2 separate regions of the Homo sapiens genome follow, and region 1 is linked to region 2. Evidence: fine-mapped expression QTL. A gene starts in region 2. The other region holds a variant in brackets. All regions are shown on one strand. Distances are from middle to middle.

Evidence for each region.
Region 1: its variant is fine-mapped to the expression of LINC01644 in whole blood (TOPMed, PIP above 0.99).

The regions. Positions count from the first base shown.
Region 1 is chr22:47,915,949-47,921,327 of GRCh38, forward strand. No RefSeq gene overlaps it. Among named protein-coding and RNA genes, the nearest start is that of EPIC1, 290 kb to the left of the region's middle. The variant G/A (reference allele first, on the strand shown) is at 2,766.
Region 2 is chr22:47,484,767-47,490,145 of GRCh38, forward strand. LINC01644 (long intergenic non-protein coding RNA 1644) reads right to left here and starts at 2,345. Exons shown (of 3, transcript NR_109967.1): 1 at 1,964-2,345.

The DNA of each region.
Region 1 (5,379 bases), 430 kb after region 2:
TGCATATATATAGTATAGGAATGATACATATATTCCGATATAACCGTATCACAGGAATATATGTATGTGTGTGTGTATACGTATATATCTTCCTTCCTTCCTTTCTTCCCTCCTTCTTTCCTTCCTTCCTTCCTTCTTCTCTTTCTTCCTTTGCATAGGTACTTTCTGAGTGGCATTACATGACAGGCATTTGTATAAGGACAAGGGATATATGAGAAAAAGGTAATTCAGCAAACAGGATCTCTGGAATGTTCAGAACACATGGGGTAAACCACGTGTATTAGTCAGGATTCTCTAGAGGGACAGAACTATATATATATATATATATATATATATATATATATATGATGGGATATATATATATATATATATGATGGGATATATATATATGATGGGATATATATATATATATATATATGATGGGATATATATATATGATGGGATATATATATATATGATGGGATATATATATATATATGATGGGATATATATATATACGATGGGATATATATATTTCATATATTCTGTATATATATTCACTGAAATAAGGAAATATACATATTCCATATATTCTGTATATATACAGAAATAATTTTATATATATATAGATAGATATATAAAGGGGAGTTTATTAAGTATTAACTCACATGATCACAAGGTCCTACAATAGGCTGTCTGCAGGCTGAGGAGCAAGGAGAGCCAGTCCCAGTCCCAAAACTGAAGAACTTGGAGTCCGATGTTCGAGGGCAGGAAGCATCCAGCACAGGAGAAAGATGTAGGCTGGGAGGCTAGGCCAGTCTCTCTTTTCACATATTTCTGCCTGTTTATATTCTAGCCATGCTGGCAGCTGATTAGATGATGCCTACCCAGATTAAGGGTGGATCTGCCTTTCCCAGCCCAGTGACTCAAATGTTAATCTCCTTTGGCAACACCCTCACAGACACACCCAGGATCAATACTTTGTATCCTTCCATCCAATGAAGTTGACACTCAGAACTAACCATCACGCCATGACATAGGACAAGTTATTGCCTGGGACAAAAATGAGCTCATAAACAAAGAAGCTTCCTTACATACAGATTTTATAGATTCTCTAGTAAAAACAACTTCCAAGGTCACCTCCTCCTCCTCCCAGTCCTCTGTCCGCCCCCCCACAGCCTGAGCACCCACATCATAAATGGGGAGCAGCTGGTGTCCCAGATTTTGGGACCCTTCCCTGTCCTTGGCGTCTGATGCTCTATGGCTTCTTGGACATTTGTTTTATTCACAAACACTGAAGAATCAGTTTAATTAGACATCTTCCAATTCTATGTCAAGCCCTTGGAAATCCCAAGTGTTTAGCAGTTAGGAGGGAGGGTATAAAGGCTCCTGCTGAGGTCACAGTCTGGGGGCAGGATTGGGCCGGAGGGGCAGCCTTAGAGAGGATGCAATTAGCTGGTATTGAAAATAACAGAAGAAAGAAATCCTCAGGTGCAGGGCCACTCACACACACCTTGACGTAAGGGTCAGCAAACGAGGAAGGAGAAAAATTGAGTGAGTTCTCAGATGTTTATCATTAGCAGAAACCCACTGGGTAGGCTTAGATTATTAGTGTAACTCAGTGGCACTCACCCTGCACAGAACCATGAACAGGCACTGCTTCCCAAAAGCAATGGGCCCAATCCCAGGGCCCTCTGTAATCTGTCCTGATGCATGGTTAAAAGCTTAGTATTGCGACTCTTTAATTTAGAAAAATCAATCAAACTTTGACAATTTTTCCTTCTTCCCTCCCTCTCCTTCCTCCCTTTACTGCCTCCCTCCCTCTCCTTCCTCCCTAGTCCCTCTCCTTCCTCCCTAAGTCCCTCTCCCTCTTCTCTCTCCTTCCTCCCTGTCCTTCCTCCCCTCCTCCCTCTCTTTACTGCCTCTCCCTCCTCCCTCTCCTTCTTCCCTCTCCTTCCTCCTTGTCTCTCCTCCCTCTCCTTCCTCCTTCTCCTTCCTCCCTACCTCCCTCTCCCTCCTCCCTCTCTTTCCTCCCTCCCTCTCCTTTCTCCCTTCCTTCTCTTCTTCCTTCAGTTAGGAAGGAAGTGCCATTACATGCCAGGCACTGGTATCAGGACAGGGGATACAAAGAAAATGCCTAATTCATGCAAGTCATTTTAGCTTGCACCCGGTATGTCTTGGATTGCTAGTTCTGAGAGAAAGGAACCAGCGCACCAGGAAGACCCTCAGGCAGCCCCATGGACAGTTCTGTGCAGAGAGGGATCCAGGCCCCCAGCCAACAGCTGGCAACAAATGCCACTCATGTGGATGAGGCCTTGGAAGTAGACCCTTCATCTCAATCAAACTTTGATGACTACAGCCTGGCCAACATCTGACTGCAGACAGGAGAGACCCCAAGCGAGGACTACCCAGCAAACTCTTCCCAAATGTATGGCTCATAGAATCTGTGTACACGATAAAGGCCCCTAAGTGCTGGGGTGATCCATCATGCAACATTCGATAACTGCAACAGACACTGAGCCCAGTGGTTGGTGCACCATCAATGCTCAGACAGTGGTGGCTGCTGCTTCTGTCAAATAACAGCAGTTCCATGTTCTGACAGATGTCCTAGATTATTCCAGGAAGTCGCATGGCTCCAGACTCCCTCCACACCCACAGTGCCCCCTGAGGAAGCCTGGCCCCACAGATGGTGACTGGCGGGAGCCATCAGACCCCCTGTCTGATTGATTGCACTTGAGTGCTAGAGAGGAGGCCATGAGAGAAAGTCACACACGTGAAACTCACAC[G/A]GGAAACCACAGCCTCTGCACCTCCGCAGGACACGGCACGGTAGCTCAGCCAGAGCCTTGGCGACCTTGGGTGCCCTTCGCGAGCTCCTGCTTCCGGAGCCGGCTCTGCAGCTGTTCTTCCTCCTCTTGTGTCTCTTGTAGCTTATAATAAAAATCTCTCTCTGGGAATTTCTTTGTTCTTTGAGCATTTCTTTGTTTCTTGCAGCCTAAAAGAGCCCATCTCAAACAACAAGGGTCTGGGTGGAGGAAGGGTTAAGGACATCTTATTTAGACTCAAAGAGCCCAATCAAGCCTTCTGCCTGAATGGAATGATTTGTGCAGTTCCTCGGTGAGACAAGAAGCTGCTTCTCTGCTCTGCCTACTAAGAAGGCCTGGATTTCCATACATAAGTAGATAAACACAACGTGCTGAAGGCAGACAGGGAAAGCAAGAAAGAACACACTATTCATTAACTTCTCCGCTTCCTAATAGGATCACCACGGGCTGAGCAACATTTCTGCTTGAGTACCCCAGCACAAAGCCCTGTCTGGGCCTCAGCCACCTGGTAATTCTCAATTAGGCTCCACGGCAGCACTAACGGCTGGCTGTTGGCTCCTACAGGTAGAGCTTATTCAACAAGGGGCCCGAGCTGTATGCCCGGAGATCACGCATGCCCAGCCTGCTGGGCCACCGTGGGCGCTGGGCAGTCTCTCTGCATTTGACCCTTTCATGATGCAGCTCCCAGTTCCCTGGGGTGGGGGCTGAGGAGCCTGGCAAGCCAGTGTGGCCATCCCCAAGTTACTCAGCACCACAGGCAGCAGCATTTTACAGCACATAGGAGGGAGCAAACCTTGCAAAAATGGATCGATAGAGACTGCTTATTGAAAGAACCTTGAACAAGCACATGTGTAAGGATTGAGAATGTGGTGTCTGAACTGGCAGCATGTGCCCAGAGCAGCACAGACCTCCCAGGAAAATGAAGAGAGGAAATCGAGGTCCCAGCAGCCCCAAGGCCCTATCTTCCTGTTTCTGCAATCACAGAGTCTTCACCTTGCCTTTTGCTCAAAGCACCGGACATCAACCTGTGGGCCATTGTCCACATTTGGCTGTCTGTACCTAGACCTGCACTGATGGATGTGGCATGCTCAGAGGTGGAGCAGATTCAGGCTGTTGTCAACAATGGTTTTGAACTCACCATCATGTTCTAAGTTAAATATTCCTCCGTGCATCATCCACCTGAATGGTTGTTCTGTGATCCCTGGAACAAGAAGATAGAGCTCCAAATGGCACAACCAGATAAGCATCACCCACCCCCGCTCAAGAATTCTGTTCGAAGTGTGCTTATTCCCACCTGGGCACACAATGTACCCATACAATAAAGCTTGCTGAAGTTGCAAACCTGCCCGAACATGGGGCTCTCCTACGTGACCATGCACCTAAAGGGCTCCAATCCCTCTGCCAATCACCCTAAGAAGTTTCCAACCTGCTCCATTTGGCTGAGAATCCTTTACTGGCTCCCCATCACCAGTGTGAATTAAGTCGCACCCCCTTAGCCTTCCTCCAGAGCCTTCTCTGAATTGACCCAGCCTGGATTTCACCTGTCAGTCATTCTTTGATATCCTTGTCTGTGAGTCCCTTATCCTGAATATGCTGAGCCCCTACTGAATACGCCCTCCCACCGTGAGGCAGGATAGCGCCGTGTGGAAGGCACAGGCCTGTGGATCAGACAGACCTGGACTCTGATTACTTAATCTGTTTGAACCTCAGTTTCCTCATCTATAAATTCAAAATACTCATCATCGTCTGTGCTGTGTAGGGTTGGCAAGAGGATTACACGTCAGTCCTGGAAAGCAGGACTCAAGGCCCAGCATGCAGTGCACACTAACCACCCGTCGACACTCCAGGGCCCCCCACTCTAAGCATGCCTACTGTGTGGTGAAGTCACTGCCTTCATTGCGGTTATGGCCATCATCCTCCTCACTTCTGCCTTTCCCGTGGTGACCTGGACTCCTTCTCACCCCTTCCTGCATGGCCCCTGCTCACCCCTTCCTTTCCCAGCCTCTGCTGGAGGCTCCAAGCTCCAGATCCTGATGTAGGGCCAGCCTTGACCATGTCTGCCTGAGCCTGGATTGCTGTTCTGTGGCTGGACTTTGTGGGGATTTGCAACAGCCGAGCCTCACCATGCCCAGCTCAGAGGCCGTCCTTAGCATGAGTCCTTTCATGTGACATCATTTAATTAAGTGTTATATTGTATGGGTCTATAAATGTCCACCTGAATTTAAATCTGCCAATAAAACTAAAAATCTCCTATAAAAGGAAGACAATGATTGTGAGCAGATATGGCCAAATGCCCATAAATCAGAAGGGGTGATGTCTCCAGGCAGAGGCTGGAATTGGAGTCACTAAGTCAGGTAGGGACCATCACCCACAGCCAAGGGGCCTTTCTTTCAGATGCCACTGTGTACATTTAGGATGTGATGATCTGAAGTGTGGAACAGTCACCCCCACAGTGCATGTAGCTGAGGGCACGCCAGGACCCTGACGCCAAGCTGCCCGGCCCCACCTGGGCACTCTTCCTACCGCAGCAGAAGCGAATTTCGGGCCTAGAGGAAATCGAGCCTGTCCATCCAGGGAC
Region 2 (5,379 bases):
CAACCTTATGAAGTAGCTACTATTATTTCTGTTTTATACAGAAGAACACTGAATCTAAGTGTAGTACTGAAGTTGCTTGAAGTATTACAGCTAACAGGTGGAGGAGCTGGGGTATAAATCCAGACTGCCTGGCTTCAGAGCCTGTTCCATTAACATACAAAATTCAAGTCCACTCCTGTATTCTAGTAACAACAACTGAGAAACTATAATGGAAGGAATAAGAGATGATGAATACACTTAAGATAATAGCAAAAAACTCTAAGGTACCTAGGAATGTATCTATCTAACAGCATATGTGCACAACACATATGGAGAGCATATATGGGACTTCCTGTTTCAGCCCCAATATGGAAACAGCACGGAAGTCACCCCCTCTCATCGTCACATCAGGGAAAACACTGAACAGACTGAACCTCAATGACTTTACCTAGATCCATCAGCTAATTGAGATCACAGAGCAAACCAGCCTCTCTGAAGTTTGTAGAGAAAGGTGAAGACAGAGAATCATAGCCACGATTAGTTTACCTGAGACTAAAACCACTGGTGCCTGTAACTGGTAGAGCCACTTTAACACTAATTTTGACAAATTGCCAGAGGCTGAGTGTGGACTAGCCTGAGAGTTAAAACCTCTTGGGGCCCAGTCTTAGGGGGACTGCAACAGGCTCATGTATTTCACCTGCTGAAACCCCAGCAGGTTCTTGCCATAAAGATCAGAGAAAAGTGTTTTAGAAAGGGGAGGGGAAAAGAACCATTTTGAAAGATGACCAGAAAATTCTCCTTAACAAAGCCGTGACTTCCAACAGTTTCCCCTTGTCTGACCTGGAGGAAGAGCGACTGGCCTGCTCAAGCCCCCTGTAGCTTTCCTGTCTCATGTAAGGAGAGACAAAAAGCCGCCAAAATTTCCTTTGCCTTAAAGATCAGAGAAAAGTGTTTTAGAAAGGGGAAAGCTTTAAAGTGGCCCTGCTGTTACAGGCGCCAGCGGTTTTAGTCTCAGGTAAACCAGTCTTGGTCATGATTCTCTGTCTTCACCTTTCGGCCGGGCGTGGTGGCTCATGCCTGTAATCCCAGGACTTTAGGAGACCGAGATGGGCAGATCACAAGGTCAAGAGATAGAGACCATCCTGGCCAAGACAGTGAAACCCCGTCTCTACTAAAAATACAGAACTTAGCTGGGCATGGTGGCATGAGCCTGTAGTCCCAGCTACTCATGAGGCTGAGGCAGGAGAATCGCTTGAACCAGGGAGTCGGAGATTGCACTGAGCCAAGATCGCACCACTGCACTCCAGCCTGGCGACAGAGTGGGACTCCATTCCAAAAAAAAAAAAAAAAATTACAGAATCTTCCCCTTACCACCACGTCAATAGGGTTCCAGGATAGTAACAGTGGATTACAACCCAGACAGCTGTAAGACACAGGTTCTTATATAAGAAGTTCATAGGAAACCCCGAAGAAAATGGGGAAAAACACAAGAAAACTAAAGCCCCTGGGATATACAACGACAGCAATCATTACACGCAGTCTAACTCCTGGCCAGATTAATATAAAACCTCACACCAAAAGCCTAATTGCCTCCGTTTTTATTACCTGATGCATCATGTCTGGCTTCTAACAAAAAATTAAAAGGCAAGAGAAAAACACAGAACAAGGCTCAGATATAACAAAGATTTGAAAATTATCCAAAAAGGAACTTAAAATATCTGTGAGTCATTGTTATGGGCTCTAATGAAAAAAGTAAATGACATGTAAATGTAAGCAGAGAGATGAAAACTTTAAAAGAATCAAAAGGAAATGCTAGATATCAAATGCCTCAAGACTCATCTGCGATTCCATCCTCAGCCTTGTCACCCCTCGGTCCCCACCCCACCATGGTGCTTGCTGTGTGTTTTCTTGACCTTGCTGTTCACCTAACCCCCTGGAAGGTGCTGTCCCAACCTCACCTGTGTCCCCTTTCTGGGCTGCTTACCTAGACCACTTGGCCTGGGCTGGCTGTGCCCAGGGGGAGGCTGGGAACATCGGCCGGCTACGCCCTGAGGTAGCTCAGATGCCAGTGTCCCACGGTGAGGACACCTCCGAGGCCGGCTCCGTGTCATCTGCTGGATGGGGCTGAACCCCAGTTGTCCTTCATGGGAATCTTCTCCTGAACCTTGCTGTGTGGGCTGCTTTCTCTTCCTTCCACCAGAGCTTCCTGGATGAAGCCCAGCATAAATGTCTTGTGCTTATCCCCATTCTGGAGGCTTCCAAGCAAGCGTAAACTCTGAAAGGGCAGGGGCCGTGAGTGCTGACTGCTTCTCTGGTCACCGTCTCACGGCCTGCCACAGACCTGTGCAGGATAAGGTGGCTACATGAATAACCAAAGGAAGGCGTGGCTGCTGGAGTGAAGTTGTAATGCACACCTACGTGTTCCAGGAAGAGGAAGTTTAGAGTTCACAAACACATCTTAGTGTTTAGACTTACTTCTGAATGTAAAGGCCCCTAGCACAACAGAAAGGGCATTTAAGGAGAGAAAGCTTAGGAACTCTGACACCTAGGAACTTGCTCTGAGATTTCACCACTCCTGTGTCCTTTCGTTAATCTGCCAGATGTTCCTGATCAGCCAATGTTTGGAAGAAGGGTAGTTACTGGTCTGCAGCAGGGCACTGGGGCAGGACGCGAGGAGGAAGGCACTGCTTTGGGCCCGGGCAAGGGCCAACTATATGTGACCCCAGGAGCTCCCCTTTTCCACCCCAGGGGCCCCACCTTTGTGTCCAGAGGCCCCTCTACCTAACTGTGTCCTGCATTCGTGGGTTCTTGGTCTCACTGACTTCAAGAACGAAGCCACGGACCCTTGCAGTGAGTGTTACAGCTCTTAAGGTGGTGCGTCTGGAGTTTGTTCCTTCTGATGTTCGGACGTGTTCGGAGTTTCTTCCTTCTGTGTGGGTTCGTGGTCTAGCTGGCTCAGGAGTGAAGCTACAGACCTTCGCGGTGAGTGTTACAGCTCTTAAGACGGCGCATCTGGAGTTGTTCATCCCTCCCGGTGGGCTCGTGGTCTCGCTGGCTTCAGGAGTGAAGCTGCAAACCTTAGCGGTAAGTGTTACAGCTCATAAAAGCAGTGTGGACCCAAAGAGTTAGCAATAGCAACATTTATTGCAAAGAGCAAAAGAACAAAGCTTCTACAGCGTGAAAAGGGATCCCAGCAGGTTGCCGCTGCTAGCTTGGGCAGCCTGCTTTTATTCACTTATCTGGCCCCACCCACATCCTGCTGATTGGTAGACCCGAGTGGTCTGTTTTGACAGGGCGCTGATTGGTGCGTTTACAATCCCTGAGCTAGACCCAAAGGTTCTCCAAGGCCCCACCAGAATAGCTAGATACAGAGTGTGGACTGGTGCATTCACAAACCCTGAGCTAGACACAGGGTGCTGATTGGTGCATTTACAATCCCTTAGCTAGACATAAAGGTTCTGCAAGTCCCCACCAGACTCAGGAGCCCAGCTGGCTTCATCCAGTGGATTCCGCACCGGGGCTGCAGGTGGAGCTGCCTGCTAGTCCCGCGCCGTGCGCCGGCACTCCTCAGCCCTTGGGCGGTGGATGGGACTGGGCGCCGTGGAGCAGGGGGCGGCGCTCGTCGGGGAGGCTTGGGCCGCACAGGAGCCCATGGAGGGGGTGGGAGGCTCAGGCATGGCGGGCTGCAGGTCCCGAGCCCTGCCCCGCGGGAAGGCAGCTAAGGCCCGGCGAGAAATGGAGCGCAGCGCCAGTGGGCCGGCACTGCTGGGGGACCCAGTACACCCTCCGCAGCCACTGGCCCGGGTGCTAAGCGCCTCACTGCGCGGGGCCGGCAGGGCTGGCCGTCTGCTCCGAGTGCGCGGCCCGCCAAGCCCACGCCCACCCGGAACTCCAGCTGGCCCGCAAGGGCCGCGCGCAGCCCGGGTTCCCGCTCGCGCCTCTCCCTCCACACCTCCCTGCAAGCTGAGGGAGCCGGCTCCGGCCTCGACCAGCCCAGAAAGGGGCTCCCACAGTGCAGCGGTGGGCTGAAGGGCTCCTCAAGTGTCACCAAAGTGGGAGCCCAGGCAGAGGAGGTGCCCAGAGCGAGCGAGGGCTGTGAGGACTGCCAGCACGCTGTCACCTCTCCTAACCACCTGGACTCAGGTCAGCTCTTCCTTTCCCTCCTGTAAAATTCATCATTTGCATTTACATGTTGTTTCTAGTGTTTTTGCAAGAATAACATTTTTATTTTTATGTGGTATATAGTAAAGTCCATCAATCGCCCCCTTTATGGTGCTTTCCTTGGATGTTTTGCATGGGAACGGCCTCCTGTCACGAGGTCAGAAAAACATCGATTTCCATTTCCCCCCAGTCCTGCCGTGGTTTCTGTCTTCACCCCATACAGCACTTACCTCCTTAATTGGCAAATGAGGTGAGGTAGGAGTCAAGCTGGAGACCTGCCCCAGAGGTGGACGATTCTGCAGCCCTTTACGGCCCTCTCTAAATGGAAATGCCACTGTGCCAGCTCCTGAATCCTAATGTGTGGAAGTGTCTGCCTGTGGCCTTATTTATTATACTCTTGCCTTAGCATCGAACTGTTTTAGTTTGTATTGCCTTATAGTCCTTTCCTCTCTCTCTTTTCAAAAAAGAAGGAACAGAGAATAAATAGCATGACTGAAGTCCATGCACCTACCAGCTAGCATGAGCAACTATTAACATTCTGGAAGTTTCCTTTAGTTATCTCTCTTTTATAAAACAAATCCAGGCCTTCAGAAAAAATTGAAGACCTCTCCAGGGTTTCTTCTCCTGTGGCTGACCCTCTCTGTCTCTCCCCAGAATCTGTCACTGTCATGAAGTTTGTGTCACTTTTCTTTTGCAATCAACATCATGTATTTTTATTACCTAGATATATAGGTACGCACGCACGCGCACACACACACACACACACACATATGTCTAGCAATCATAATGCTGTTCTAAGTTTTTAAAATGTACGAATATAGCATTCTATGTTATTGGCTTTTACATTTTTTTACTAGTATTTTTGAGACCTAAAATTCATTGTTACTGTTTCGTTGTATTTTTTCATATCACTCCATAGAATGTTATCTACTCATTTCTTTGTGGACTGACACTTGCAGTGCCGTGGTGGACGTTTGTGTGATGTCATTGTGGAAGATGGCGTGTTCCTTTAGGATGCCTGCCTGGGAATGGAGCGTCTAACCTGCAGAGCATCCTCTGAGGATATCGGCAGAGTTTTTAGCAGAGATGTTGTGGCAGTTTATCCCCCGCTGGCTGCATGCGTGTTCTGTTGATTTGCACATCCTTACCAATCCTTGGTGTGGCTGGAACTGGGGATGTTTACAATGCTGTTCACTGTGGTTTAATTTCCATTTCCTTGGTCACTTAGAAAAGTGGGAC